4 linked regions of the Homo sapiens genome follow. The protein of the gene in region 4 interacts with the protein of the main gene of each other region in a biochemical or structural test. Each region holds a gene or a part of one and is shown on either strand. Other genes may lie near its edges. The genes, in order: NAA10, CSNK1A1, FBXW11 and CDC25A.

Region 1 (7,594 bases), on a different chromosome or scaffold from region 4:
CCCAGCCCATTAGAAAAATCGAGATCTACTTACTGAAAGTTGAGGGTGTTGGAATAGAGGTGCAGGGCGGCCCGGTTACTGCAGGGGAACAAGGCACTGCTGAGCTGCACGGATTTGGCCAGGGAGGGGTAGCACGTCCAGGTCTTGCCCCTCCTCCTGGTCCCTCCTTCCCCCCAATCCCACTTCCTGGATCTTCACCAAAAGCTGAGGTACCCCAGGACCCCCGTCAAGGCAGTATCTCTCCCCCTCAATCCCCCTTCCCTCAGCCCGGCTTCCACCTCTTCCTGACATGCAGGGAGACATATTTGGCATTGAAGTTCTCTATCATGGCTCGAGAGGCCTGGTCCATCAGTTTCTGAGCCAGACCGAGGCGCCGGTGGGAACGCTTCACAGCCTGGTGGGAGAAGAGCAGAGATGGGGTGAGGGACTGGGACCTTGAGGGCTGCCCCAACTAACCCCCACTTCCACCCCCACCAGAGAGCCTGGGTGGACCTTACATACCAATGAGGTGATATGTCCATGGGGCACATCATCTGGGTCCTCTTCCCTGGAGAGGGAGAAAGGAGAGGCTGCAAAGGAGCTCAGTGTAGGCACAGCCACCTCCAGCCCCCCTGCCATTTGTAGAGTGGACATGCACTACAGCCCCCTAAGACCCCAGCTGGGGGAGAGCCGGGAGCCTCTTGGATCAGAGCAGCCGATCCTGCCACCCTCTGCTGCCTGAAAACCCCAAGCCTGCCGGGTGTGGGGCACACGCCTATAGTTCCAGCTACTTGGCAGGCCGGGGCAAGAGGACTGCTTGAGCCCAGGAGTTCGAGACCAGCCTGGACAACACTTTTTTTTGTCTCTACAAAAAAAAAATCAAAAAATTAGCTGGATGTGGTGGCGCATGCCTGTGGTCCCAGCTACTTGGGAGGCAGACATGAGAGGATCACTTGAGCCTGGGAGGTTGAGGCTGCAGTGAGCCATGATCATGCCACTGCACTCCAGCCTGGGCAACAGAGCGAGACCCTGTCTCAAAAAATAAAAAAAGAAATGAGCTGTCAACCCACGCAAAGACAAGGCAGAAGCTTAAATGTGTATTACTAAGTGAAAAAAAGCCAGCCTGAAAAAGCTGTATATAGTATGATTCCAACTCTGTGACATCCTGGAAAAGGCAAAACCATGCAAACAGTAAAAAATCAGTGGTTGCCACGGGTTAAGGAGAGGGAGGGATGAATGCGTGGAACACAGTGAAACTATCCTGCGATAATATGAAGGTGGACACATGTCATTTGGTCAAAACCATGGGGCTTACAACACAAAGAGAAGTGCAGTAATGTAAACTATGGGTTTAGTTAATAATAATATATCGGCCAGGCGCAGTGGCTCACGCCTGTAATCCTAGCACTTTGGGAGACAGAGGTGGGTGGAAACACCTGAGGTCAGGAATTCGAGACCAGCCTGGCCAACGTAGTGAAACCCCATTGCTACTGAAATATACAAAAATTAGCCAGGTGTGGTGGCATGTGCCTGTAATCCCAGCTACTAAGGAGGCTGAGGCAGGAGAATCGCTTGAACCCAGGGGGTGGAGGTTGCAGTGAGCCAAGATCACGCGACTGCACTCCAGCCTGGGCGACAGGGCAAGACTCCGTCTCAAATAATAATAGTAATAATAATAATAGTAACATATCACATTCATTTATCACTTGTCACAAGTGGACCACACAAATCCAACATGCTACTAACAGAGGAAGCTGGCAGGGAGGGGATGCTGAGGGGTGCTATAAGAACTCCATGTCCTTTCTGTTCAATTTTTCTATAAACTTTCAACTGTACTGAAAAGAAGAAGCCTATTCATTTTTTTTAAAGCCCACAGAGGCATCCACCAGACACGTGTAGCTTCTGTCTTCCTCCTTGGTGACTCACATTTTGGCCAGGACATACCCCACAATCTTCCCATTCTCGTCCTCAGCAATGTAAGAGAGCTGGTGACAGGAAAACAGAGTGAGAAAACTTCTTGTCGGAGCTAGAAGAGCCCTTTAGAGGGACACAAACTGGACGAGTGGCGAGTTGTGTGATGGCTCATGACCTCCGGGCTGAGTGGCTTGGTCTCCCCCTCGCCACACTGTGCCCTGCCCATACCCAGAAAGAAGACGCAAAGTGGGGATCCTGCCCCTATTCTCTGCTCCCTTCGGGCGCCTTCTTTTCCTTTGCCCCTGTCTGCCAGCTGAAAACACCCAGGACGCCACCGACCATACAGCCCCCTGGGCTCTGACAGACTTGTCCACTCCCTCCAAGATGGCCAGATGGGATTTTCCTCGGCCTGCTTTCCCCCATGCCCAAATTCAGAAGCTGCCCACCTGGGGCCAGGAAAGGCCATGGTAGAAGTAGTATTTCATCTGGTAGTTCTCGGGCAGGCAGAGGAGGTTGCAGTGCTGCATGTTCATTAGGTCCTCTGGCTGCAGGGAAGGAGGGCAGTGGAACGCGCTCAGTCTAAGGCGGCGGTGACCACGGGTGAGAAGCCTGCTCCCCGTCGGTCTGCTCGGCCCCGCTCCCTCGGGGCTGGGCAGGCACTGTGACGATCTGACTTTGCACAACGCCCGGAGCACAGGAACAGGAGTGGGCGCCCCGGAGGTCCCCGGAGCCCACCCAACGGAGGCCCGACATCACGCAAACAGGAGGGAATCGCAGCCCCGGCCCCGCGCCCCGGCCTCTTCGGCGGGCTGGGCCAGCCCCATAGGTCCAGCGGCCGCAGGCACACTCAGGGCCACCGGGCCGGGCTCGGCCGGGGCCCTCGGGAGCATGCGCGGCAGCCACCCGGCCCGGCGCCCACGCGGCGCGGACAGCCTCCCGCCCCGGGCGCTCACCCTCGCATTGCGGATGTTCATAACGGCGGCGGGGCTCGCGGGTCCCAGCGGATCGTGAAGGCGCAGTCAGCTGCCGCCGCGCTCCGAAGCGACGCCGGGACGGCCGGGGCTGGGACCGGAGCTGGGCTCGCTGGGCGACGGCGGAAGGGGCGGTGCGCGCCGGGCCGGCCACCGGCCGGAAGTGCACGGCCGCCGGGCCCGTCCTCCCGGCCGCTTGGCCAATGCGCGGGACAGGCCAGCGCACGGGGCGGGCCAATGCGCGGAGCCGGTCAGCGCGGGGCGGGCCTGGGGGCGGGGCGGGCGCTGCCCCGGAGCTGGAGCCGGCCCCTCCCTCGGCGCGACAGCCCCCCTCCCGCGAGCCCACAGACGCGCGCACAGCCGCAGGTGGAGCGGACTCAGCCTTTATTCCGCGCCTCGGCAGGCGGGGGTGGGGGCGGGGGAGGGGGCGGGGGCGGGGCGGCTCAGCAGGGCGCCCAGCATCTCCTCGCACATGGCTAGGCACCGCGGCACGTGGAAGCAGCCTGCGGGTAGAGGCGGGCAGGTAGTGAGGGCCGGGGGCAGCCGAGAGGCGCAACCCCTGCGGCCCCGCCCTCTCCCCCACTCACCTTTGAAAGGACCTCCCTTGATGGAGAGGGCCACCTTGCCCTCTCGGCTCAGGTAGCCAAACCATTCCCCGTACTCGGGATCGCGAAACTGGAATAACAGAGACAGTGACAGCTAGCGCCTGCAGGACCCGCCCAGATGCCACTGCATCGCTACCAGGGGTCAGAGCCTGGGTTGACCCCAGGTGACGTGGCTCCAGAACCAGCGATCTTAACCGCGACACTGCGTCCTCCACAAAGATGAAAGCAGGGGTGGGCGCAGCAGGCAGGCTACAACTATATAACCGACTGGGCAAGGGGATGAGACACTGCTAGATGGAATGAAAGAACTCTGCCCTGGGGTGTAGAAACGTTGTCTATCGGGCCGGGAGCTGTGGCTTGCGCCTGTAATCCCAGCACTTTCGGAGGCCGAGGCGGGCGGATCACCTGAGGTCAGGAGTTCAAGATCAGCCTGGACAACATGGTGAAACCTCATCTCTACTAAAAATACAAAATTAGCCGGACGTGGTGGCACGCACTTGTAATCCCAGCAGTATACTCGGGAGGCTGAGGCGGGAGAATAGCTTGAACACAGGAGGCGGAGGTTGCAGTGAGCTGAGATCACGCCATTGCGCTCCAGCCTGGGTGACAGAGCGAGACTCCATCTCAAACAAACAAACAAACGAACAAACAAACAAACAAAAAAGTTCTCTATTGTGATTGTAGTCGTGGTTACGTTGATTCAAAGAAACAAAGAACCCGGCCGGGTGCAAAGGCTCACACCTGTAATCCCAGCACTTTGGGAGGCCGAGGCGGGCGGATCACAAGGTCAGGAGATCGAGACCATCCTGGCTAACACAGTGAAATCCCGTCTCTACTAAAATACAAAAAATTAGCCGGGAGTGGTGGCGGGCACCTGTAGTCCCAGCTACTCGGGAGGCTGAGGCAGGAGAATGGCGTGAACCCGGGAGGCGGAGCTTGCAGTGAGCCAAGATCGCGCCACTGCACTCCAGCCTGGGCAACAGAGCCAGACTCCGTCTCAAAAAAAAAAAAAAAAAAAGGAAAAGAAAAGAAACAAAGAACCCTGATGGAGGCGACGACCTGTCATGAAACTCTTAAGAAGTGACTCCCTTGGAGCTCCCATTCCCGGCTTCACAGGCCTGTCTTCCAGTAGATGCACAATCTCATCTGACTCCTGTCCTGGCTCACCATTGGTCCCAAACTCATCTCCTCCTCCCTCTGCCCCTGCCCAGTGCCCATTCCACTCTCTTTCCTTCTCTCTCCACTAGCATTCCATGGGGCACCTGTCTCAGGGAGGCTTGTCAGTTCAGCCCCTTCTCAAAAGGATCATGGACTCAATTACATTGAAGTCCACTATGAAAATGTCTCTTTAAATGGTGGCCCATAAGAGTTGGTGTATTCTTCTTTGTAGGAAGTAAAACTAGTCCTGGGCTGGGCACAGTGGCTCACGCCTATAATCCCAGCACTTTGAGAGGCCGAGGCGGGAGGATCACTTGAGGCCAGGAGTTTAAGACCAGGCTGGGAAACATAGTGAGACCCCATCTATACAAAAAAAAAATTAAAGAATTAGCTGGGCGTGATGGCACACAGCTGTAGTCCCAGCTACCTGGGTGGCTGAGGTGGAAGGATCGCTTGAGCCCAGGAGGTTGAGGCTGCACTGAGCCATGATTGTGCCACTGCACTCAGCCTGGGCGATAGAGACCCTGTCTCAAAAATAAATAAATAAATAAATAAATAAATAAATAAATAAATAAATAAAAACTAGTTCTGTGTGTATTCATTCTGTCTTTTGAGTTACATTGTTCAAGTCCTTACTTATTTTTTGACTGCTTGACATGACACAGGAAGGTAAAGAAGAATTTCCTTCAATGTCTGGATTTTTGCCTTCTGTATTCTGTTATGTTGGTTGATGCATAATGACTTACCTGTTTTTTTGTTTGTTGGTTAGTTTTTTGGTTTTTGTTTTTTTAAGACGGAGTTTCGCTCTTGTCACCCAGACTGGATGGAGTGCAGTGGCGTGATCCCAGCTCACTGCAACCTTCACCTCCCAGGTTCCAGTGATTCTCCTGCTTCAGCCTCCTGAGTAGCTGGGATTACAGGCACCCGCCACCAAGCCCGGCTAATTTATTTATTTATTTTTTTTATTTTTTATTTTTTTTAATGGAGTTTTGCTCCTGTTGCCCAGGCTGGAGTGCTTCCCGGGTTCAAGTGATTCTCCTGCCTCAGTCTCCCCAGTAGTTGGGATTACAGGCACCCGCCACCACACCCGGCTAATTTTTTGTATTTTTAATAGAGATGGGGGTTTCACCATGTCAGCCAGGCTGTTCTCGAACTCCTGACCTCAAGTGATCCACCTGCCTCGGCCTTTCAAAGTGCTGGAATGGCAGGCGTGAGCCACCGCGACCAGCCCAATTTTTGTATTTTTAGTAGAGACGGGGTTTCGCCATGTTGACCAGGCTGGTCCAGAACTCCTGACCTCAGGTGATCCACCCGCCTCAGTCTCCCAAAGTGCTGAGATTACAGGCATGAGCCACCATGCCCAGCCGATTTACCTGTTGATTATAACTTTTGTAATTGTTTAATGTCATCTATATCTTATTAAAATGTATTCCTTCAATTTCATTTTTGAGTTAGAACTGGTGGCCCCTAACACACACTCTATGAATGCATTAAATATTAAGATATAGCTGCAGGTCTAACAACCCTGCTGCTTTGGAAGTAGTGACGAATATATGTGATACTTGCAGATGTCTCTCTAACTGCAATGCAATGTAAACACATCTGGATTTCTATCGGTGACAAAGCCAGGCACTTCTATTACCAATGTGGTTCATTGCCTCCACTCATAATGGCAGCAAATGCTAGTTTCAGTTAGAGGTTAGTACAAATAAAGATGTGATTCTCCGCCCCCGGTTTCGAAGCTCACAGACCCCAGAATAAGATCCCCTGCTATAGTCCTCGCAGTACCAGGGTTCACCAGTGGAGTCGGAGTCGTGGCTTTAGAAACGCATGATGAATCTTCATTCATTCACCACCCAGGCCTTGCCACCACTGGGTGCCATGCCCTTTCCACTGGGTGCCATGCCCTTTCCACTGGGTGCCATGCCCTTTCCTGTGTTCAGCAGCTCGAGTTGCCTCCTGGGCAGCAGTCAAGACAGCTTATCACTCTGCTCCTAGCACTTGGGCTTCAGGGAGCCCCTGGCTTGGTTTTCTTCCTGCGTCACCACTGATTCTTGTCTCCTTTGCTGGGCCCCCATTTCCCTTTTTGCCTCATAGATCTCAGCAGCATCTGTACTGTTTTTTTTTTTTTGTTTTTTTTTTTTTTGAGACCAAGTCTTGCTCTTGTCCCCCAGGCTGGAGTGCAATGGTGCGATCTCGGCTCACTGCAACCTCTGCCTCCTGGGTTCAAGCGATTCTCCTGCCTCTGCCTCCCAAGTAGCTGGGATTACAGGCACCCACCACCACGCTTGGCTAATTTTTGTATTTTTAGTAGAGATGGGGTTTCACCATGTTGGCCAGGCTGGTCTTGAACTCCTGACCTCAGGTGATCCACCTGCCTCAGTCTCCCAAAGTGCTGGGATTACAGGCGTGAGCCACCGTGCCCGGCCTTTTTTTTTTGAGACATAGTCTCGCTCTGTTGCCCAGCCCAGGCTGGAGTGCAGTGGTGTGATCATAACTCATTGCAGCCTCAAACTGGGCTTAAGCAGTCCTCCTGCCTCAGCCTCCTGAGTAGCTAGGACTACAGGTGTGCATGACACCCAGCTAATTTTTTAAAATTTTTTGTAGAGACCAGGTCTCGTTATGTTGCCCAGACTGGTTTTGAAGTCCTCGGTTCAAGCGATCCTCCCGTCTCAGCCTGCCAAAGTGCTAGGATTATAGACATGAGCCACTGTGCCAGGCAGCATCTACATTCTTGTGATACTGAAAACATTCATGGTGAGTCCAGATCTCTCCGTCTGAACTGGAGACTCAGGAATCCCACTGCTGCTCCACCAGACTGTGAACCCTCTGTCCCCACCAGCTCCCACCTGGGCCAGCCCTCACTGGCTGGGATGACAGCTACAGCTTCCTCTGCTGTCCCAGCTTCTGCCCTGTTCCCTACAGACTTCCCCCATAACACCCTCCCCTCCAAGCCCCAGGACCCAG
Region 2 (7,030 bases), on a different chromosome or scaffold from region 4:
CTGCCCGACATGGTGAAGCCCCATCTTTACTAAAAATACAAAAATTAGCCGGGTGAGGTGGTGCTCACCTTTAATCCCAGCGACTCGGGAGGCTGAGGCAGGAGAATCTCTTGAACCTGGGAAGCGGAGGTTGCAGTCAGCTGAGATCCCCCCAGTGCACTCCAACCTGGGTGACAATGAGGCTCTGTCTCAAAAGAGAAAAACAAAGAATTCAAGTAATCTGCCAGGTGCAATGGCTCACACCTATAATCCTAGCACTTTGGGAGGCCGATGGGGGTGGATCACCTGAGGCCAGGAGCTCGAGACCAGCCTGGCCAACATGGTGAAACCCCGTCTCTGCTACAAATACAAAAATTAGCTGGGTATGGTGGCAGGCGCCTGTAATCCCAGCTACTCAGGAGGCCGAGGCAGGAGAATTGCTTGAACCTGCGAGACGGAGGTTGCAGTGAGCCGAGATTGCACCACTGCACTCCAGCCTGGGCAACAAGAGCAAAACATGGTCTCAAAAAAAAAAAGAGAGAATTCAGGTAATCTTTTAACCCCAGAAAAGTGTCTTCCCCAGGTACCAGTCAGACATCTTATTCCCAAACTTCCAGTTGAATATTTACTCTTACTTGTTTTTAGGAAGTACCTCCTCTTATGAGTATTCCCCTAGATAACTGACAGCTTGATTTCATGTTTCAGTTTTCATGCTGCCTTTTTCATCTATAATAAGAAATATTTTAGAAGCTGCCACACTTGAGGAAATATTCGTTGTGTAAAGAAATGCTGTCACTGTCTTAAAAAGTTAGTAGGTTATATAACTGGACTCTGTTATTAAAGGATTAACATAAAATATTTTATGTGTTCCAGGACCCTGAACCATCAATATGACTACACATTTGATTGGACAATGTTAAAGCAGAAAGCAGCACAGCAGGCAGCCTCTTCCAGTGGGCAGGGTCAGCAGGCCCAAACCCCCACAGGCAAGCAAACTGACAAAACCAAGAGTAACATGAAAGGTTAGTAGCCAAGAACCAAGTGACGTTACAGGGAAAAAATTGAATACAAAATTGGGTAATTCATTTCTAACAGTGTTAGATCAAGGAGGTGGTTTTAAAATACATAAAAATTTGGCTCTGCGTTAAAAAAAAAAAGACGTCCTTGGAAAATTTGACTACTAACTTTAAACCCAAATGTCCTTGTTCATATATATGTATATGTATTTGTATATACATATATGTGTGTATATTTATATCATTTCTCTTGGGATTTTGGGTCATTTTTTTAACAACTGCATCTTTTTTACTCATTCATTAACCCCCTTTCCAAAAATTTGGTGTTGGGAATATAATATAATCAATCAATCCAAAATCCTAGACCTAACACTTGTTGATTTCTAATAATGAATTTGGTTAGCCATATTTTGACTTTATTTCAGACTAACAATGTTAAGATTTTTTATTTTGCATGTTAATGCTTTAGCATTTAAAATGGAAAATTGTGAACATGTTGTAATTTCAAGAGGTGAGTTTGGCATTACCCCCAAAGTGTCTATCTTCTCAGTTGCAGAGCATCTCATTTTCTCTCTTAAATGCTCAAATAAATGCAAAGCTCAGCACATCTTTTCTAGTCACAAAAATAATTCTTTTATTTGCAGTTTACGTATGATCTTAATTTCAAAACGATTTCTTTGTTTTTGGCTTGATTTTTCACAATGTTGCAAATATCAGGCTCCCAGGGTTTAATGTGGAATTGAAGTCTGCAGCCAGGCCTTGCAAATTGAAGGTAACTGGGGCAAATGCCATTGAAACCGCTAGTCTTATTTCCTTTCTACTTTTCTTTGGCACTCTTACTGCCTGTAAGGAGTAGAACTGTTAGGGCACACTGTTGCTATACAGTTTAACTCCCATTTTCATGTTTTGTCTTTCTTTTCCCATTTCTGGGGCTTACCTCCTGATACCTGCTTACTTTCTGGAAGTAGTGGGCAAGTAAGATTTGGCTCTTGGTTTCTAATTTTTAAATTTCTGAATACTGCCCTAGTCTGAACTTGGCCTTTATAGATTAATCTTTGCTTCACATTTTTAGTGTTGTATTTAAACTATTTTATAATTTAAAAATAGATTCTAATCTGAAGATACTTTTCAAGAAATATTATTAACTGATGTCATCCTCATCCCAGCAGCTCATCTGTTAGGAATGAAGTTGAGATGCTTCTATTCCATGTTTTTGTATTTGGGAAGGATTCAAAGTTGAAGGTTTATTGTCGTTGGGTTTTTCAGATGGTGACATGTAAACTCAGGATAGCAAACCCTAATGTTCACACAGTGCTCTGCCTCTGCATCTCAGTTGGGATAGTTGCTCCTTTTGAGTGTTTTAATCATCGTATAACTAATCATAGTGCCAAGAAGTTCATAATGTGTTATGTAGCTAATGTCACTGAAAAACAGTCCTACCATTTTAGGTAAGACCAAACAGAGTCTCTAACCCAAGGACTTGTTACACCTGACAACCTATAGTATATTTGCTTTTTCTCACAAAATGAAACCAATTTTGCCGAAAGCTAGCTGGGATAATAGGATCATCACAAGTTGCAGTTTCTATAACTAAAATTAGATTGAAATCTCTTCTGACCTAGAACATTTTACTTCAGGCATTCAGCAGATTTCAGAAAGAATTACCTTATTTTAAGTTAGTTTCTTTGTTAGTTTACTGTGTGTCTCTTATTCAATAAACAAGCAGAATTTGTGTCCTGCCCTATCCATGTCTTAAAGATGAGAAGTTGGATCCACTGAGTTAGTTTCATTGGGGCGGGGGAAAGAACTGTAATTAAACTTGTTTAATCCTTATTTTGTATTGTAGCTATTTTTTGTAAAAGCAACTTAAAATCTTTTAAAAATTTTATAGTGACATTAGAGACAATGGTCATACAAATTATCACATAAACATGGACTTGAAAAATTAGGCTTTTCATAAAACACATCACATGTCATTGACTGCTTTTTAGAAATACACTTCCAAGGCAGTACATCTGTATTGCTACTGAAAAGTGCCATTTCACAGAACACAGACTTCTTTTTGCTCTTTGACATCTTGAAAACATCTGTTTTTCTTTTTTAATACAAAACTTTGTGCTCAAGACAAATCTTACATGAAACTCTCATAAACCATGAAAATGTAGCTGGCCTTCGGGCCTTAGGCATGAAATAAGCATGAGGAACATATTCCCCTAACTTCTACCCCCAGCCCAGCAAGTTATCCTTTAAGAAATCTCCTAGGAATTCTGGAGTTTGAAAACAATTGCTCTATGTTATTCCTGCTTCCAGTCTCTAAGTAACAAGGGCATTTAAAAGCATAGTCTCTTAAGGTCCACTATAGTGGTTCTTTATTTAAGGAATAACTCAGCTGGGTGCAGTGGCTCACGCCTGTTATCCCAGCACTTTGAGAGGCTGAGGCAAGCAGATCACTTGAGGCCAGGAGTTCGAGAGTCTGGCCAACATGGTGGAAACCCATCTCTACAAAAAATACAAAAATTAGCCAGGTGTGGTGGCGTGCACCTATGGTCCCAGCTATTTGGGAGGCTGAGGCAGGAGAATTGCTTGAACCTGGGAGGTGGAGGTTGCAGTGAGCCAAGATTGTGCCGCTGCACTCCAGCCTGGGTGACAGAGTGAGACTCTGTCTCAAAAAAAAAAAAAAAAGGAACTCATACAGCTCAATGATTCATTGATCCCAATAATAAATCGTTTTAATAATGATGAAAACATCCTACTGGGGTTTTCTTGTTAAAAACTTTAGGACAGGCGCAGTGGCTCATGCCTGTTATTCCAACACATTTGGGAGGCTGAGGTGGGAGAATTGCTTGACCCTAGGAGTTCTAGACTTGCCTGGGCCACATAGTAAGACCCTGTCCCAGCTCCCTCCAACATCGTCCCCAACCCCCCCCCCCCCAAAAAAAAAAAGCGCCAGGCGCAGTAGTGAGTGCCTGTGATCCCAGCTGTGTTGGGAGGCTGAGGTGGGAGTATCACCTGAGCCCTGGAGGTTGAGGCTGCAATGAGAGCTGTGATCATGCCACTGCACTCCAGCCTGGGCAACAGATGAGACCCTGTGTCACAACAAGGAATTTTTAGAAGGTGCTTTTTATATTACTCTTCACAGAGTTAAATTTTCAGAGGATTTAGTATTATTGAACTAAGTTTCATAAGTGTATTTTAAGCAAGTAAATCTCTAATGTAGGAAAATCCCCAAAATGGTAGCATTTACTAATGTTTTATATGGTAATTTTTGAAAAATATATCTGATATTTCTTCAGTAAAAATGGTGTTGTTTTAATAACTTAATAAGAATGTTTAAAGATTCTTTAAGTCTGGCTTATCTAGCTAATGTGGGCCTATTAAATAATAGGCAGACTTCTGCCTTCCTTATATTCTTTAGATCTTTTCAAATACTCCATTCCAATATCCATCAAAAGACTTCTCTTTATGCCACTTATTATCTATACTAGTTTTTAATGTTCAATTACTACAAGATTATAATTACTGTTTTTATTCATGTTCCCAAGAAAAATACATAAGATTCACACCCAACACACTTCGAAATTTATTTCACTCCCTTTGACTATATGTGATTATCAAAAAAGTATTTTTCAAGATATTAAAAATAAGTAAAGGAAAATGAAATATTTTTAGGACATTCAAAATCTAATGAAGTTCAGTGTTTCTTTAATTGAGGGCAGGCAGAGGTGGGGGAGAATTTCAGAAGGTAGTGAACCCAAAGGTGGATTCTTGGATAATTCTACTATTCTGTACTCTCATCATCTTAACCCATCTGTTTACTACCCTAACCATAGTTACTAAGCAGAGTTTTATCATAATAATATAGACAGCTCTCAAAGTATTGACATTCAGAGGGGATTACAAATATTATTTTTCTATCATATTGACCTACCATGTCCACAGTCTTCCTTGAATTACCTTCCAGTTTTACTGGGCTGCATCTACCGTTTATGTCTAGTTTGACTTTTTCTGAGTTCACCAATTGCTGCTAGGAATGTGCTGGTCACTCAGCAGCACACCCACATCACAGGGGAAGATTTTGAAATACCTGGACAGTCTGAACACACTGCTCTGAATACACTCAATTCTAAGAAGTACCAGGGAACCGCATCTTCTTGCTGAAATCTTGAATTTTTGTCAGCTTTTTTTTTTACTGTGGACAGTAAAGCTGGAAAGATCTAAATAACCCAACAGGAAATGCGGATGAAAGTGCAAGAGTTGGTTTGTGGTCATCTGGAGTCCATGTCTCCAAGACTGCTGGACCTTCAAATTCTGCAACTTGTTAGATCATCTGGATGATAGCACAACTGTTAGAAGACCTAGAAGAATACAGCGTTGCTATGACTCAGTGGTGTTGAATGCAGACCATCTACCAGCTGGGGAAAGAATCAATTATAAACAGGTATTTTAAAACTCCAGAACGTCAGAAATGTGTAGCAGAATGAATTCTGTTATAAGGAAGACAAAACAATTCAGTCTGTTTTTTAATGCAGTTTAGGAATAGTGTATACCTCCTATACTTAAAATTGTCATTTATCTTTCCCAACTTTAAATACTCTTTTAGTTTCTATAGGGAAGGAAGAGTTATTACAGGTTTTTTTTTTTTAATTATTCTTTAACTTTAGATACTGCCAATCTGATTTAAAATTCTCCAAGCTTAATTCTGTGCAACAAACAGAACCACACAAGCAGCCAGGCACTGTGGCTCACTCCTATAATCCCAGCATTTTTGAGGCTAGATGGGAAGATCACTTGATCTCAGGATTTTGAGAACCATCCGGACAACATAGGGAGACCTCATCGCTATTTTAAATAATTTTAAAAAGAAAAGAAAAAAAAAGGCCGGGTGCGGTGGCTCGCTTCTGTAATCCCAGCACTTTGGGAGGCTGAGGCGGGCAGATCGTGAGGTCAGGAGATTGAGACCATCCTGGCTGACACAGTGAAACCCTGTCTTTACTAAAAATACAAAAAAGTAGCTGGGGCCGGGCGCGGTGGCTCATGCCTGTAATCCCAGCAGTTTGGGAGGCCGAGGCGGGCGGATCACAAGGTCAGGATATCCAGACCATCTTGGCTAACATGGTGAAACCCCGTCTGTACTAAAAATACAAAAAATTAGCCGGGCGTGGTGGCGGGCGCCTATAGTCCCAGCTACTTGGGAGGCTGAGGCAGGAGAATGGCGTGAACCCAGGAGGCGGAGCTTGCAGTGAGCCAAGATCGCGCCACTGCACTCCAGCCTGGGCGACAGAGCAAGACTCCATCTCAAAAAAAAAAAAAAAAAAAATTAGCTGGGCGTAGTGGCGGGTGCCTGTAGTCCCAGCTACTTGAGAGGCTGAGGCAGGAGAATGGCGTGAACCCAGGAGACGGAGCTTGTAGTGGGCGGAGATCGCGCCATTGTACTCCAGCCTGGGTGACAGAGCGAGACTCCGTCTCAAAAAAAAAAAAAAAAAAAGAAAAAAAGAAAAAAAACCCCACAACCATGTTATAGGAAAAGTTAGTATAAATGACATAGCATAATTAATATATTCAAAATAACTTTTAAAAAGTTGTCTTGTAGCTTGAAGGGATCCTAAATATCAAAAGCCCATCACAAACTTACAAGCCTTACTGCTACGTAAATATCCCTTTGAACTAGTTTCTGGTTCTATTTAAAAAGTCGAAAACTGTTGAAATTAATTTACGAATAAGAACAGATACACACTTTGTGGGGAGGCTGAGGTGGTAGGATCTCCTGAGCCCAGGAGTTTTAAGTCCAGCCTGGGCAACATAACAGCAAGACCCCATCTCAAAAAAAAAAAAGCATATCTTTTGTTTATTTTTTTAATAGACAAAGTCTCACTATGTTGCCCAGGTTTATTTGGAACTCCTGGCTTTAAGTGATCTTCCTGCCTCAGCCTCCCAAAGTGTTAGCATTATAGATGTGAGCCACCTCGTCTGGGCCAGAGCATACATTTTAGATTTCAGATTGGGTGGCGGGCAGGGATAGAATATCCTTGTTAGTT
Region 3 (7,829 bases), on a different chromosome or scaffold from region 4:
AAGCTGAATCCTATAGAGTGGGTCAGGAGGAGAAGCAACCTGGGTGGACCCAGGCCTCAGGCAGCGGTAGGAGTCAAAGTGGGGGTTATATTTTAGAAATTTAACTATTCTGCTATCACCAGCTTTATTTCCTAATATACTTATCAAAAATGCAAGGAAAAACAGAAGAATCAATATTAAGGAAAGTACAGGGATGAAGATTAGAAAATGGAGATAACCAAGAAGTCTGTTTCCTCTTTTTAATACAGCACACTTTGGAACAGCAAATGAAAGTTATCTTGTTAAGCATTAAGTGCCAAACTGGTACAAGCAGCACAATCACAAATATTTGAGTACTGAAGCTGACTCATAAAAATCTAAAAATATTTCATGCTTTAGGCTTTCAAAACACCATCAGTTTAACCCCTTTTCCTCCATCAATCGTATTATCTTGAAACCAATGTAAAAAATATTTTTAACCCAGTTCTGGAAACTGTAATTGAAATGCAGTGAAAACAGAAAGCCACATGCAATTAGATTCTAAGGCATTATTTCCTACATTTGATCCTGGATTTACTCAATCAGTTGTTAAGCACCTGTGCTACTTTACTAAAATAAATACACATATTTAATTTATGATAAGGGTTGTCTAAGAGTCTTAACTGATATCCCTTTCAGGAAATATCAAAATCCTTAAATAAAAGGCCATTTTAAAATTAATCGTAATATAACTAAACTCTGTTAAATTTTCAAAGAATTCCAGTTTAAATCCCAGTTTATAATGTCCTTAACAGGCTGAAATCTCTTTTCTGATCAAAACCAAGTGCTATCATGTAAAATCAAAACTTTTTAAGTTATAAGCATAGGAAGCCAGTGAATTTAGGCCAAAGGTTTTTATTTTTTTATTTTGTAACCATACACTGACTTGGGTTACAACGTATTTCTTATAATTCTTTTGAAAATAAATACATTTTCGTTATTTTTTAAAGGAATAGAAATGGAAGGAGCTGGGAACAGCCAATTTCAAAGAGGCACCAAGTTACAATTTTTCGATATGAAGTACTTCTGTTGTAAGTACATGCACTGTGTGTACATTCTTAAGAATATGTAATATACTTAGTCGATTTAAGATAGTTACCAAAATAACCCACTACAAAAGTTACAGAATACCAAACACTTGACTACAAGTATGATAAATTATGCTGAAAAGGAAAAATCACTCAGTATGTGACATCCCTTTGAAAACAACCCCACGTGCACACACACACACACACACACACACGCATGCAAAAATCAAAAACTATCAGTTTCTTTTTTTCCCTCCTAGTTTTCAAGAATGCTAGAGAAGTCCAGTTCTGTGAATTATGCAAAGGACAGCAAACATTAAGCTGCCTCCATATTTATGCTACTGTACTTCCATTTTTAAAACAAGCATCTCAACTCCCCAGACACCATCATCCACAGAAACCATGCAGCTATCCAACAGACTTTCAGTGTCACCATTTATTATTTATAGCGTTAAATGGGGGAAGTGGCTCTGATGTCACCAACCCTACCCAGTGGAATCACTGACTCAATAAACATTTTCACACTGAAGAAAATCTGGCTAGGAAAACATTTTGCTGGGTTAAGTAGATTCTTCCACCTCTCCTCTCAACCCTGGGGAAGAAGTTGTTACCGTGTTAGGAAAGATACAAAGAAACTGTCAAGGCTTCCATAGGAAGAAATCCTGGACATGTCCATTTGCTGATGCAGACTTCCTCTTCCCAGCTCTCCAGAGCCCAATTTGATTTCCCTCATGTTCACGTTGGCAGGTAATATCTGCCATATTTTATTTCTTCCACCAAATCATCCATCAATTAGCAAATTCTTCACTTCTAGCCACTCTCTCACTGTCCTGTTCCTAAAAACCCCTTCTGGTTTCAAATCCTAAAGCTTCGGAGGAGGGTGGAGGGTGTCCACGGACCGGGAGTCTGGCCTGGCTGCCAGTGGTTTCTAACAGAAGAGTGGTCGCTTCCCCCGGGGGCCAAGGATTCCCCTCTTTTTTTTTTCTTTCTGAGAAGAAAGACCTCGCGGCAGTGATGAGGATGGCTCCCTCCCCAGTCATCTCCAATTTCCCAAAGCAGCTCTGGAAAACGTGAAGTTGCGCCTTCTCTTTCCTGGAGGATGGAATCCAGAGTACCTGGGCCCTTGCTATGCAAACATCCCTCTCCGCCGGGTAGGAAACCCTTTGTCCGAGAAGCCGGACACCACAAGGGCCCGGGAAAGAGGCCTCCTTATCCGCCACAGCCTCAAACCCGAAAGCTCCCTGCCCCCCCAGCTCTGTAGGGCCTATCCTGGCATCCACACAGACCTAGGCTGGGGAGTGGGTGCTGAGACCTCTCCTAGGACGCGGAGGCCCAGGCGGCCCCAACCCATCTCCGTACTCCTTCCCACCATCTCACTCGGCCTGAGTGGGGCTTGCAAGCGCGGTGCGGGCCTGGGCCGAAACAGAGGAAAGAAAAAAAAATCCCTTTCTAAAAGAAGGAGAATGGGGTGCTAGAGCGAGTGCGACCTAAGTCTACAGCATAAACGAGCGAGGGTCGTCCGAGAGCTGGGACCGGAGACGGGACCAGGGGGAGGGGGAGAAGCGAGGGGCATGGAGGGGGCCGGGCCAGGACCGGCCGGAGATGTCGAGGGATCAGAGGAGCCCGCGCCAGGTCCGAGGCCAGGGAAGGCTGGGGGCCCGGGTCTGGGTCGAGGCGTCTGGGAAGGGCCAGAGCCGGCCTCGCACCGGACGTTGAGGTGGGCAGGCCCGCCCGGGGCCGGACGGACGGAAGCACAGACGGTCCAGCGGGCCGCACTCACCATGAGCTCGATGGTCTTGTCCTCAATCACCGAGTCGGGCTCCATGGCGGCCCCGGCGGCCCCGCCTCGCTCTCCCCGCGCAGCAGCGAACGGCCCGGGCGGAGGAGGCGACGGCGGAGGCGGCAGAGGCGGAGGCGGCTATCGCACCCACTCTAGCTGCCAGCCCGCCCGGGCCGCCGGCAGCTCCGCCCTCCCCCTCGGCGAACGCAGTACGCAGATCGGGGACTACACCTCCCAGCAGGCGCCGCGGCCCGCAGAGCGTTGTGGGACCGAGCCTCTGACACCAGGTTGCTGGCTCTTGGCAGCCCGAAGCTGAACTCCGAGCTGAGAGTAGCACTGGACGGTGGGCGTAGGACGTGCAGACCTGAAGAGTTAAGAGCTTGCTCATGGCAGGGCCTCGAGAGCGCCACGACTACGTGTCCCAGAAAGCCGTGCGCCCGGGTTGTCCTTCCGGCTAGCTTCTCTTGACTTCCTGGCAGCCCAAGGCTGCCCAGACCGGGACGGAAACTCCGAGGCAACTCCTCACTTGTCGGAGGTCCTGCGTATGCGACCCATTTCCGCACATGCGCGGTCCATGCCGCAGTGCTCCCTAGACGCCTAGGTAGCTGCGCGGCCCGTCCGGCAGTGTCTGATGGTAGGGGCAGATGGTGGAGACAGGTGGGTTCTAGGTGCGTTAGGAAGGTGTATAGACCTGGGGCTCAGGTGTGGGAAGGGGCCAGCGAGTGAGAGAAGCTCGGCCTGGGGAAGAGGCTCTGAGAGGATGGGCATCCCAGGAGTGAGAGTTTCGAGATTTCTTCGGGAAAGACGGGGTTTTGGGAAATGTGCTGTGGTGCTGTCTGTATGTCACACGATCTGCGAGGAGCTGCGAGATTAAAGGGGACGTGCGTATATCGAGCCCCTCATTCATTCGTTCAGAAAATGGTTATTTTTTAAGCATCCAGCTTCCGCTGCGTACCGTTCTAGGCGCTGAGAATCAGCTCTGAACATGACAGACAAGGCTCCTGTTCTCATGGAGCTTAATTCTGGTGGAGGGACGACAGACACTAACCAAAAGAGTGGCTAAGAAGGAACACACAAGCGGAGACTCCTTCTAGTGAACTCAGCCTCCAACTCTGTGTAACTTAGGTCTGTCCGTGCCCTCTAACCAAATCCCACCAGGAAGACACGGATCGTTGAACAAGCTGGGTTTATTACTAGTTGCAGTGACTGAGAACACACATTGAGGAACGATAGGGCCTCTCGGTAAGAGTTGTTAGTGATTTGGGAGAGGGTTTAAGGAAGTGAGAGCTTCACTGGATTAGATACTGTCAGGAAGAGAGGGTCGTTCCATGATTGAGCATCTCAGTTCATCTTATCTAGAGGAAGGGAATTCTAGATTGAGGCTAAAGCTGTGCAGATAAAGAAACAGCAGCCTGGCCGGGCGCAGTGGCTCACGCCTGTAATCCCAGCACTTTGGTAAACCGAGGCAGGCGAATTGCTTGAGCGCAGGAGTTCCAGACCAGCCTGGGCAACATGGCGAAACTCTTCTCTACAAAAAATACAAAAATGAACCGGGCCTGGTGGTGCGCGCCTGTCATCTCAGTTACTTGGGAGGCAGAGGTGGGACGATCGCTTGAGCCCAGGAAGTGGAGGTTTCAGTGAATGGAGATCGCACCACTCCACTGTACCCTGAGTGATAGAGCCAGACCTTGTCTCAAAAACGAAAAAAAAAAAAAAAAGTGCAGCAGCAGCTCCCTCATATTAGCCAAGTGGGGATGTTGAGTCATTTTTTGTGGTTTGGACAATCATCAGGTTTTATCTTTTTATCGTGTTTAGACCTGATTATAGAGTGGTCTTGTATTTGTCTGGATCTATCATGGTCACAGAATGACCTCGTCTGATGTTGATGTTCTTTGGAATTGTTTTTGTTCTACAGGAAAACACAAAGCCTAGCTATAAGGGCCAGGCTGTGGTCTAGTAACATCATGGCATGGCTGATTGTACCAGGCCAGCTTCCAGATATCAGAGGCTGCTTTTCACTTTCTCAAAGTGTTTTTGCATTCTCTGCACCTATAAAGTCAAAGAGGCTGGATGACCTAGAAATCTTTCCATTACCAAGGACCAAGTTACAGTAATTTGCATGCATTCAGGACACAGTATAAGTTCCCTGCAGGTAGACTTTGAAGTTTCATAGTCCTTACCTGGTGCTTTTCACCAAGGGAATTGAAAGAAAAGCAATAGGAAGAGCACAGAATTGGAAAGTTCTTACCACTGTCATGCTATCTGAATTTCACCAGGTCCGTTCCACTATGGCCCTTAGGACATTCATTAGTAAAACAAAGGGATTAGATATGACCTCTATTTCAGTTACCTGTTGCAACACAACAAACCTCCGAAGACTTAGTAGCTTAGAATAACAATGGTTTATTATGATTTTACAATTGTGTGGGCTGACCCGGGCTCAGCCGGGGCCCACATGCAATCAGCTGGGAACTCATTCAAAATGACTTTTCATCTTCTAGGGCCTCTCCTCCCTGTGGCTTTTTATCATTCAAACGTCTGCATAGTGACTTGAGAAAGGACAAGCCCCAGTGAACAAATGCTTATCAAACCTCTGGTATGCACCACACTTGGTAATGTCCCGTTGGCCAAAACTAGTAGTATGGCCACACCCATAGTCAGTGTGGGAAAGGATTGTACAGGGGCATAAAAACAGGCATGGGGTAGGAGTCACAAGCTGGATGTGACCCTCCCCCCGCCGACCCGGCACATACATATGTTTGTCCTATACCGTCTTTTTTACTGTTTTTAAAATTTGATGTTCAGGTTTTCAAAATCTGAATTTCCAGCTTTTCTTGAAAAATTAGAATATCTGACAATTAGATCTACATGGCAACAATATGCAGGGGTTAAATAGCAACTACCTTTATTTAAGCATATATTCTATGGTTTTCCACAGTTGCCATCACTCCTTTTTGCCTTGTATCTGCATGCTTCACTCATTTAAGTTGCATCCCTAACCTGTATAGATATTTGAGTTTGCATCCCCTGGCATTGGAACTGTAGTGGAGATAAATCAAGGTTTCTGTCCTTTTATTAAAATCGTATACCTGGGAGCATAGGGAGGGGCTACCATCTCTGTGGCTGCACCATGATCTACAAAAAAAAAAAAAGAAAATTGTATGCTGCCTTAAAAGGAAAAAAGTACTAATATTATTAGGTCAAATTCCAGGAGCTCAGTGGGGTTAAAAGCTCATACATAGGAATTAGCCAAGTATGATGGCTCACGCTTGTGGCTGCAACTACTCAGGAGGCTGAGGTGGGAGGATCACTTGAGCCTGAGAGGTCAAGGGTGCAGTGAGCCATGATTGCACCACTGTATTCCAGCCTGGGTGACAGAATGACCAGCTTGGGTACCAGACCAGCTTGGGTGACAGAACAAGACCCTGTCTCAAAACAACAACAATAAATAAATAAATAAACACTATATATATGATAAAAGAAGTCTTATCCAAGCTACGTAAGAGGCAAGCTGAGCCAAGGCTTTATCACCTTGCTCTCACCTCTTCTCAAACAAGAACTCAGGTGCTCTTATTGCTTCAGGCTTGATGGCAGCTGTTGATTAGATTTGGTCATAGACAAAGGCAGAACACCCTGAGGCATATTTTCCCACCGTGTTTCAGATAGCTCTTCACTGAGGTTTGCAAGACATGATCATAACAAAGTGGTACAGGTCGTGATTCCCCTGAGGTCCAGTTCAGAACCCAGAATTGCTTAGATTGTACAAAGGCACAATGGTGCATTACATAAACTGTACAATGTAACACTCCTTCTGGGGTCTCAGGACAGCACTCCGTAATCAAATACCTTCTTCTGCAGCAGAACATGTATGTGCCTGCCATCAATTTATAACCTCATAGCTCCAAATCTAACCTTCTTTTCTATGCTTTGAAATACTGGAGCAGGATCCTGTAAATACTTCTCTGCCAGCTGGCACAGTGTTTAACTTTGTCAGTAGAGAGCACTAGAGGAACACAGCAGAATGAAGGGGCTTCTCATCCTGGTTCCAGTGTACTTTCTTTTCCTTCTTGCTTTGTGGCACATGGCAGCAAATGGCTTATAGAACCATCCCTTCCTCCCCACACACAAAGGGGGCTGGGACATTCAGAGGGTGGTGGCTTCCCGGTGAGTTTAGTGGCACCTCAGTAGGCAATTTCCTGTAACTATATATATATATATATATATATATATATATATATATATATATATATACACACATACATATATATAATATATACATATATATATGTATGTGTATATATATTTATATTTTTATATATTTATATATTTATATTTATATATTTATATATATTTATATTTATATATTTTTATATATTTATATTTTATATATTATATTTATATTTATATATGGAGTCTCGCCCTGTCACCCAGGCGGGAGTGCAGTGGCCGTGACCTGAGCTCACTGCAACCTCCGCCTCCCGGGTTCAAGCAATTCTCCTGCCTCAGCCTCCTGAGTAGCTGGGATTACAGGCGTGCTCCATCAAGTCTGGATAATTTTTTGTATCTTTAGTAGAGACAAGGTTTCACCATGTTGGCCAGGCTGGTCTTGAACTCCTGACCTCGTGACCTACCTGCCTCGGCCTCCCAAAGTGCTGGGAATACAGGCCTGAGCCACCGTGCCCAGGCTTTTTTTTGTTTCTTTTTCTGAGACAGAGTCTAACTCTGTTGCTCAGGCTGGAGTGCAGTGGCGCAATCTTGGCTTACTGCAACCTCCGTCTCCCAGGTTCAAGAGATTCTCCTGCCTCAGCTGCCCATAAGTAGCTGGGATTACAGGTGCGTGCCACCACACCCAGCTAATTTTGGGGGTTGTTTGTTTGTTGAGACAGAGTTTTGCTCTTGTTGCCCAGGCTGGAGTGCAATGGCACAATCTCGGCTCACTGCAACCTCCACCTCCTGGGTTCAAGCAATTCACCTGCCTCAGCCTCCCAAGTAGCTGGGATTAC
Region 4 (7,030 bases):
TGAAATCTCACTCTATCACCCAGGCTGGAGTGCAGTGGCGTGATCTCTGCTCACTGCAACCTCCATTTCCCGGGTTCAAGCGATTCTCCTGCCTCAGCCTCCTGAGCAGCTGGGATTACAGGCTCATACCACCACACCCAGCTATTTTTTGTATTTTCAGTAGAGACAGGGTTTCACCATATTGGCCAGGCTGGTATGGAACTCCTGACCTCGTGATCCACCCGCCTTGTCCTCCCAAAGTGCTGGGATTACAGGAGTGAACCACAGCACTCAGCCAGAATATTATTAAATATTGATAGATATTTTCTGACATGTATACAATGTAAAGTTTCACAAATGTTCTTGCCCTTATAACCCAGAATTTCATTTTTAATTAGAAATAAAAGGAAAATCAGGGGAAGGGAAATTCTAAATGTCCAGAAGGTGATTTATTCAATTATTTCTAGTATACTTGTAAGTCAAAACACTATCGGCCAGGTGCACTGGCCTGTGCCTGTAGTCCCAGATACTTTGGAGGCTGAGGTGGGAGGACTGCTTGAGCCCAGGAATTCAAGGCCAGCCTGGGCAACACAGTAAGACCTCTTTTCTACAAAAAATAAAAAAAAATTTTTTTTAAATTAACTGGGCATGGTGGTGCATGCCTGTAGTCCCAGCTGCTAGGGGGGCTGAGGCGGGAGGAGTGCTTGAGCCCATGGAGGCTGTACTGAGCTGTGATCGTGCTAGTGCACTCCAGCCTGAGTGACAGCGCTAGACCCTGTGCCCCCCACAAACAAAAAGAACAAAAACCAAAACCAAACAACTCTCCCAAAACAAAAATACTATGCAATTATTAAAATATTCTTTTAGAACAATACTTTAAAAACATTCATAAAGCATTAAAAACAAAAGCAGATACGATAAGGCAGTAGGCCTAAATGCTAAATGTTTTCCTAGCTGTCATCTCTCTAACCTTTTAAGACTGTGATGAGATTTACTTAAACCTTTTCATGCCACAGAAAACACAGGTAGTTCACCATTTTATAATGCTTAATACCAAACCTCAATATAAGGACAGTATAATGAAGGAAAAACATACAAATAAACCAGTGTTTTGTGTGTCTAGCCACAGAATAAATAGAAAAAATAACACAAAGGACCATAGGACTTAGGCCCAGACAACCATGACACTAGCTCACCCATGCCAGGTGCTGTGTCTAACACCTATGATCCTGGCACTTTGGGAGGCCAAGGCGGGAGGATTGCCCTGAGCCCAGGAGTTTGAGACCAGCCTGCGCAACATGGCGAAAGCCTGTCTCTACAAAAAATACAAAAATTAGCTGGGTTTGGTGGCACACACCTATAGTCCCAGCTGCTTGAGAGCCTGAGGTGGGAGGACTGCTTGAGCCTGGGAGGTGGAGAGTGCAGTGAGCGGAGATCATGCCACTGCACTCCAGCCTGGGTGACAGAGAGACCCTGTCTCAGAAACAGGAAACAACAAAACAGCCTATACAACTATGAGCAATGCAATGAATTAACTTGAAGAATTAGACAGACAGGGCTGGGCGCAGTGGCTCACGCCTGTAATTCCAGCACTTTAGGAGGCTGAGGCGGGCGGATCACAAGGTCAGGAGATGGAGACCATCCTAGCTAACACTGTGAAACCCCGTCTCTACTAAAAATACAAAAAATTAGCCAGGCGTGGTGGCGGGGTCCTGTAGTCCCAGCTACTGGGAGGCTGAAGCAGGAGAATGGCATGAACCCGGGAGGCAGAGCTTGCAGTGAGCTGAGATCGCGCCACTGCACTCCAGCCTGGGCGACAGAGCGTCTCAAAAAAAAAAAAAAAAAAGACAGACCTTTATAAAAATCAAGTATTTAATAGGCCATGATAGGTCTGGATTAAAAGGAAATAAAATATCTACAACAAATGATAATAAAAACATTTCAGGTCAAAAGTTATGAGACAAATCTAAAGCAGTGGGAAATTCATAGATTCAAATAGATTTATCCAGAAATAAGAAAATTAAAAACGAATGAGTTAACCATTCAACTCATGAAGCTGGAGACAGCAACACAACAAGCCCCAAGAAAAGCCTGCTCTCCCTAGGCAAAGGATGGCCTATTGAGGCAGAAGACTTTTAGACAATAATCATTCTACTAGTCAACACAGAAACAATTATGGCCAACAGCAAGCGGGGGCCTCCACCTTTGCCCAGCTGTCATACAGTGCCCCAGTCACCACCCCACGGGGATGGAATGAACTTCCACTCCCTCCCAGCAATAATGAGACAAGTCCCCACCCAAGGTGTCAATGGAGTTTGTGCTGGGGAACCCGGACTTCCACCCATGCCTTTCTTGCAGTATCAGAGGAAGCCTGCTAAAACGTAAAATTTACATAGACCGGAGACTCACAAATATACAGGAGACAATGGAAGAATCACCGGTCATACCAAGAACCAGAAAAATCCCAACTTGAACAGGAAAAGACAATCAACAGATGCCAACAACACTATGGATGGATGTTGGATTTGTCTTACAAAGATTTTAAAGCAGCCATCTTAAAAATGCTTCAACAGGCAATTATGAACATACTCAAAGCAAATGAAAAACCAACATGAAAACAGCCAAGTATCAGCCAGGTGTGGTGGCTCACACTTGTAATCCCAGTGCTTTGGGAGGCCAAGGCAGGAGGATCACTTGAGGCTAGGAGTTCAGGACCAGCGTGGGCAACATCGCTAGATCCCATCTCTATTAAAAGAAACACACACACACCCACACACACACACAACCCCACAAAACCCCAGCAAATCTTAGCAAAGAAAATAAATGAACCACTAAGTAGAAATTTTTAGAACTGAAAAATACAGTATCTGTGCTAGAGCAAAAAGGAACCTAGGAAACTAACCTCATGGGCCTTCTCTGGATTAGTTGACTCTTTGGGGCTGGCCCCAGACATGCTCTTCCTCCTCTTTGTACTTCCAGGTGGAGACTCCTCTTGAGATCGTTCTGGTCTCTTCAACACTGACCGAGTGCTGGAGCTACACAGGGAAGGGGAGTCAAACAGCTTGCATCGGTTGTCCTTACAGGAAAAAAAACAGACAGACCCATCTTTCATTAAAACCTGTTCACTTGAATGGTAAGACAAATAAACCGAAGGTTTCCTGGGATGATCTAAGATCAATTCTAAATTAGCCAACAGACACTGCCGATTCATCTAGTCCTAGCAACTCTCACAGGGCCTGGCACATAGTAGGCACTGAGCACTTAGTGCTCAATGAATATATACTCAGCTGACATTATATAGAGATGAGCAAAACGTCCTTTGCCCTCACAAAAACTGTCTACATAATCCTGCGTCAAGAGAAGTGTGACCTTCCAGTCAGGAACACATTTTTGGCTTGCCTATCTTCCCCTCCATTTTATTACTTGCACCTTGCTTAATTAAGCAGGTCAACGGGTTTAAATACCCCACTTAAATCCAGAAAAGATGCACAGTAGCCAGGTTATAATAAAAATGGGGGCATCTTTGGTTAAGGTATAGTTAAGATGGTAAATTTGGAGGGAGTGGGGATGGGCAGAGTAGCAAATGCCTTTCAAAATTGTGTTCAAAGTCTTTTTTTCTACTTGGTCTTTTAAAGACTAATTTCCCAGGCTGGGCGCGGTGGCTCACGCCTGTAATCCCAACACTGTGGGATCACTTGAGGTCACAAGTTCAATAACAGCCTGGCCAACATGAAGAAACCCCATCTCTATTAAAAATACAAAAAAATTAGCCAGGTGTGGTGGTGCGTGCCTTTAATCCCAGCTACCCAGGAGGCTGAGGCACGAGAATCACTTGAAACCAGGAGGTGGTGGTTGCAGTGAGCTAAGATTTGCACCACTGCACTCCAGCCTGGGTGACAGAGCAAGACTCTGTCTCAATAAATAAATAAATAAATAAAGACAAATTTTCCAGAGCCCAAGGGAAGCCAATCTGACCAGTGGTAGCAAGAGTCAGCTCTCTAAACGCATCTCAGCCTATTCTCGACTCCATGTGTCTTGGCCTGGCTTTTCCTTCTGCACAGAATGTCCTTTCACATCTCAGTAAACCATTCATTTTCAAGTTGATGCTAACATTTCAATGTCACTTCTTTGAAATCTTCCTGATAGTCCCCAGTAGAATGGATCACTCCCACATCTGCTCCCATAGAGACCGGGGATTTTCTTCCTCTTTTGTGTGAAGTTTATTTTCCATTACAGCTCCCAGCAATGGTTAGTTTGTAATAACCATTTGTGGAAGACATTTCCCCACTATTAAGAGCTTACAAGCCCATGCTTATGACTCTAAAATCAAATCTATAAAACTAACAGCCACTTCCAAAGTGTTCTCACATTTTATGTAATTTTATGCCTATCAAAATGACCTGGTAAATTTACTCATAACATTTGTACTGCGTTAACATATTTTCTCAAAAGCTATGCACATGAATGTACTATAATCCATAAGTGATCTCAAAACTGTAGCTTGGCTGGGCACGGTGGCTCATGCCTGTAATCCCAGCACTTTGGGAGGCAGGTGGATGGATCACCTGAGGTCAAGAGTTCGAGACCAGCCTGGCCAACATAGTGAAACCTCGTCTCTACTAAAAATACCAAAAAAATTAGCCGGGAGTGGTGGCGTAAGCCTGTAGTCCCAGCTACTCAGAAGGCTGAGCCAGAAGAAGCACTTGAACCCAGGAGGCAGAGGTTGCAGCAAGTCAAGACTACACCACTGCACTGCACCCCAGCCTGGGCAACAGAGGGAGACTCTGTCTCAAAAACAAAACAAAACAAACAAACAAAAAAACTGTAGCTCATTTGTTCTGTAATTATAGTTCAGGTTATTGAGAATTAAAAAATATGAACTTATCAATTTAGATGTGTACCTAAGGGTGTATATCTCTGAACATACAGGTGTATATATCTGTATAGGCACATTCTTGCTTCTAACTTTGAAAGTATCCCTATGATGAAAACACGAATCTATAGCATGTGTATGTGTGTGTATATATATGTGATTTTGAATATATATACACACATACACTATAGATTCTGTATCTACATATACTATGCTTTCTGTTTGAAAGTATCCCTGATGGAAACACAAATCTATACTGTGTATGTGTGTGTGTGAGTATATATATATATATATATATATATATAAAATATATATTATATATAATTTTTAAAATCGAAAATATCTACCTGAAAATACCCAGCCTCAGGTAGGTATTTTCAATGAAAAACAAAACAAAACAAAACAAACAAACAAAACAGCAACAAAAAACATCCAGCCAGGCACAGTGGCTCATGCCTGTAATCCCAGCACTTTGGGAGGTCGAGGTGGGCAGATCACCTGAGGTCAGGAGATCGAGACTAGCCTGGCCAACATAATGTAACCCCGTCTCTACTGAAAATACAAAGATTAGCTGGGTGTGGTGGCAGGCACCTGTAATCCCAGCTACTCGGGAGGCTGAGGCAGGAGAATCACTTGAACCTGGGAGGCAGAGGTTGCAGTGAGCCAAGATTGTGCCACTGCACTCTAGAATGGGCAACAAGAGCGAGACTCCGTCTCAAAAAAAAAAACAAAAAACACAGAAACAAAAAAAATCCTGTGAGTTACTGTTGCTTGTCTAATTTTATGCTAGGTTCTGTGGAATATAAATGAGAATAACCTAAAAAAAGTAAAGTATTCAGGCTAAAGGCTTCAGATAGGCTTTTTTCAAACTGACTAGATGGTAAAAGCTAGGAATGACCATGGTCCCTCCTAACCCACACTCCTTATACATCAGGAGACATGCAGAGAGATATCATGACTAAAGGTCATAATTTGTAGGTAGCCAAAGTGAGGCCTAAAACCCAGATCCCCAAATCCTATCATGCATTTCAATCTTTGGCTATACTCAACTAAGGACTACTCTGTCCAGTGCCCCAATCACGCAGGGCTTCCTCCAGACACACTAGAACAACTCACAAGGTTTGTAGTTCTCATGACGAGAGGAGCTGTCCAGAGGCTTGCCATGCACGAGGGGGTCTCCTCCTCATTCTAAAGAAACAGAAAAACTGATTTTAAAAAGAGCCTGTAGAGACTAACATTTGTTTAAGTGCTTTAGGTGTGTTTCTCCCTGAACAATACCAGATAGGCCTGGATAGGAAGTATCCTTAATGTACCATCCTATACCGTTCTGATTTCATGTTTCTTGCATATAGATTGTTAGTTAGCTCCTTCAGGGTAAGAAGGATCATGTGTCTTCTTTTGATGCCCCCATCCCCCAATCCAAAGGATTTAATAAGGCTGGTAGCCCTATTATTAAATGAATTATCACCAAATGAACAAAAATATCAGCTAAGCAAGCCCCGGGGAACTGCTGTTGCTGTTCTTTTTCACATCACATGCCTTCTCCAGAGGTAATTAATTAGTAGAACAAATAGGAACACACACACACACACACGGTACCTTCAGATTCTCTCCATCGAGAAGGTCCACGAAGCCATCATCCTCATCAGACAAAGTGGCTGTCACAGGTGACTGGGGTGTAAAAAGAGGAATGAAATTCCCTGGTTCACTGCTATCTCTTTCATTTGAGGAAAGCTGTAAGACAAAATTCATGGATTAATAATGAGAGCTCTGATCCACTTTCATTTCCTTGAATGGGTCACTAGTTTTTATGATGAAAACATACTATGTTATACTTGTTATACAAAGCAAAATTTTAGCCATTACTGATTATATGAAAATGTATCCCAAGATTATAAATGATTTGATGACCACACACAGCCCTGAGTAGTCAGTAGCCTTTACAGAGAACTCTTGCCAGAAGCAATTCACCTTATAATGGGTACTAGAGATAGCCTCTTGTGAAGAACAAGGTTTCTTTTATTAGAAGGTTGCATCAGTGAACACCGATCAGCATTGAGGACTGTGACAGTATGAGAATCTGCTGAAATGAGTTAGGGCAAGCAGATGCAAATCTCTATAAAGACCATAAAATGGCCTAGAGAATGCACTTATATATAACTCCAGTTCTGACAGGGG

The links.
Region 1: the proteins of CDC25A (region 4) and NAA10 form a complex in vitro, tested with the Homo sapiens proteins (one study listed by BioGRID).
Region 2: of the proteins of CDC25A (region 4) and CSNK1A1, one has a biochemical effect on the other in vitro, tested with the Homo sapiens proteins (one study listed by BioGRID).
Region 3: the proteins of CDC25A (region 4) and FBXW11 form a complex in vitro, tested with the Homo sapiens proteins (2 studies listed by BioGRID, with this or other methods).

The regions. Positions count from the first base shown.
Region 1 is NC_000023.11:153,932,038-153,939,631, forward strand, and holds the start of NAA10 (N-alpha-acetyltransferase 10), read right to left. Parts: upstream 3,001-7,594; 5' UTR 2,868-3,000; coding exon 2,847-2,867; intron 2,439-2,846; coding exon 2,340-2,438; intron 1,965-2,339; coding exon 1,906-1,964; intron 548-1,905; coding exon 502-547; intron 395-501; coding exon 279-394; intron 79-278; coding exon 34-78; intron 1-33. Other genes in the region: RENBP (N-acylglucosamine 2-epimerase), read right to left, coding at 3,249-3,367, 3,452-3,539. UniProt on the Homo sapiens protein: Catalytic subunit of N-terminal acetyltransferase complexes which display alpha (N-terminal) acetyltransferase activity. Acetylates amino termini that are devoid of initiator methionine.
Region 2 is NC_000005.10:149,499,418-149,506,447, reverse strand, and holds part of CSNK1A1 (casein kinase I isoform alpha), read left to right. Parts: intron 1-852; coding exon 853-1,001; intron 1,002-7,030.
Region 3 is NC_000005.10:172,003,632-172,011,460, forward strand, and holds the start of FBXW11 (F-box/WD repeat-containing protein 11), read right to left. Parts: upstream 3,008-7,829; 5' UTR 2,872-3,007; coding exon 2,827-2,871; intron 1-2,826.
Region 4 is NC_000003.12:48,171,403-48,178,432, forward strand, and holds part of CDC25A (M-phase inducer phosphatase 1), read right to left. Parts: intron 6,587-7,030; coding exon 6,452-6,586; intron 6,041-6,451; coding exon 5,969-6,040; intron 3,056-5,968; coding exon 2,882-3,055; intron 1-2,881. UniProt on the Homo sapiens protein: Tyrosine protein phosphatase which functions as a dosage-dependent inducer of mitotic progression. Directly dephosphorylates CDK1 and stimulates its kinase activity. Also dephosphorylates CDK2 in complex with cyclin-E, in vitro.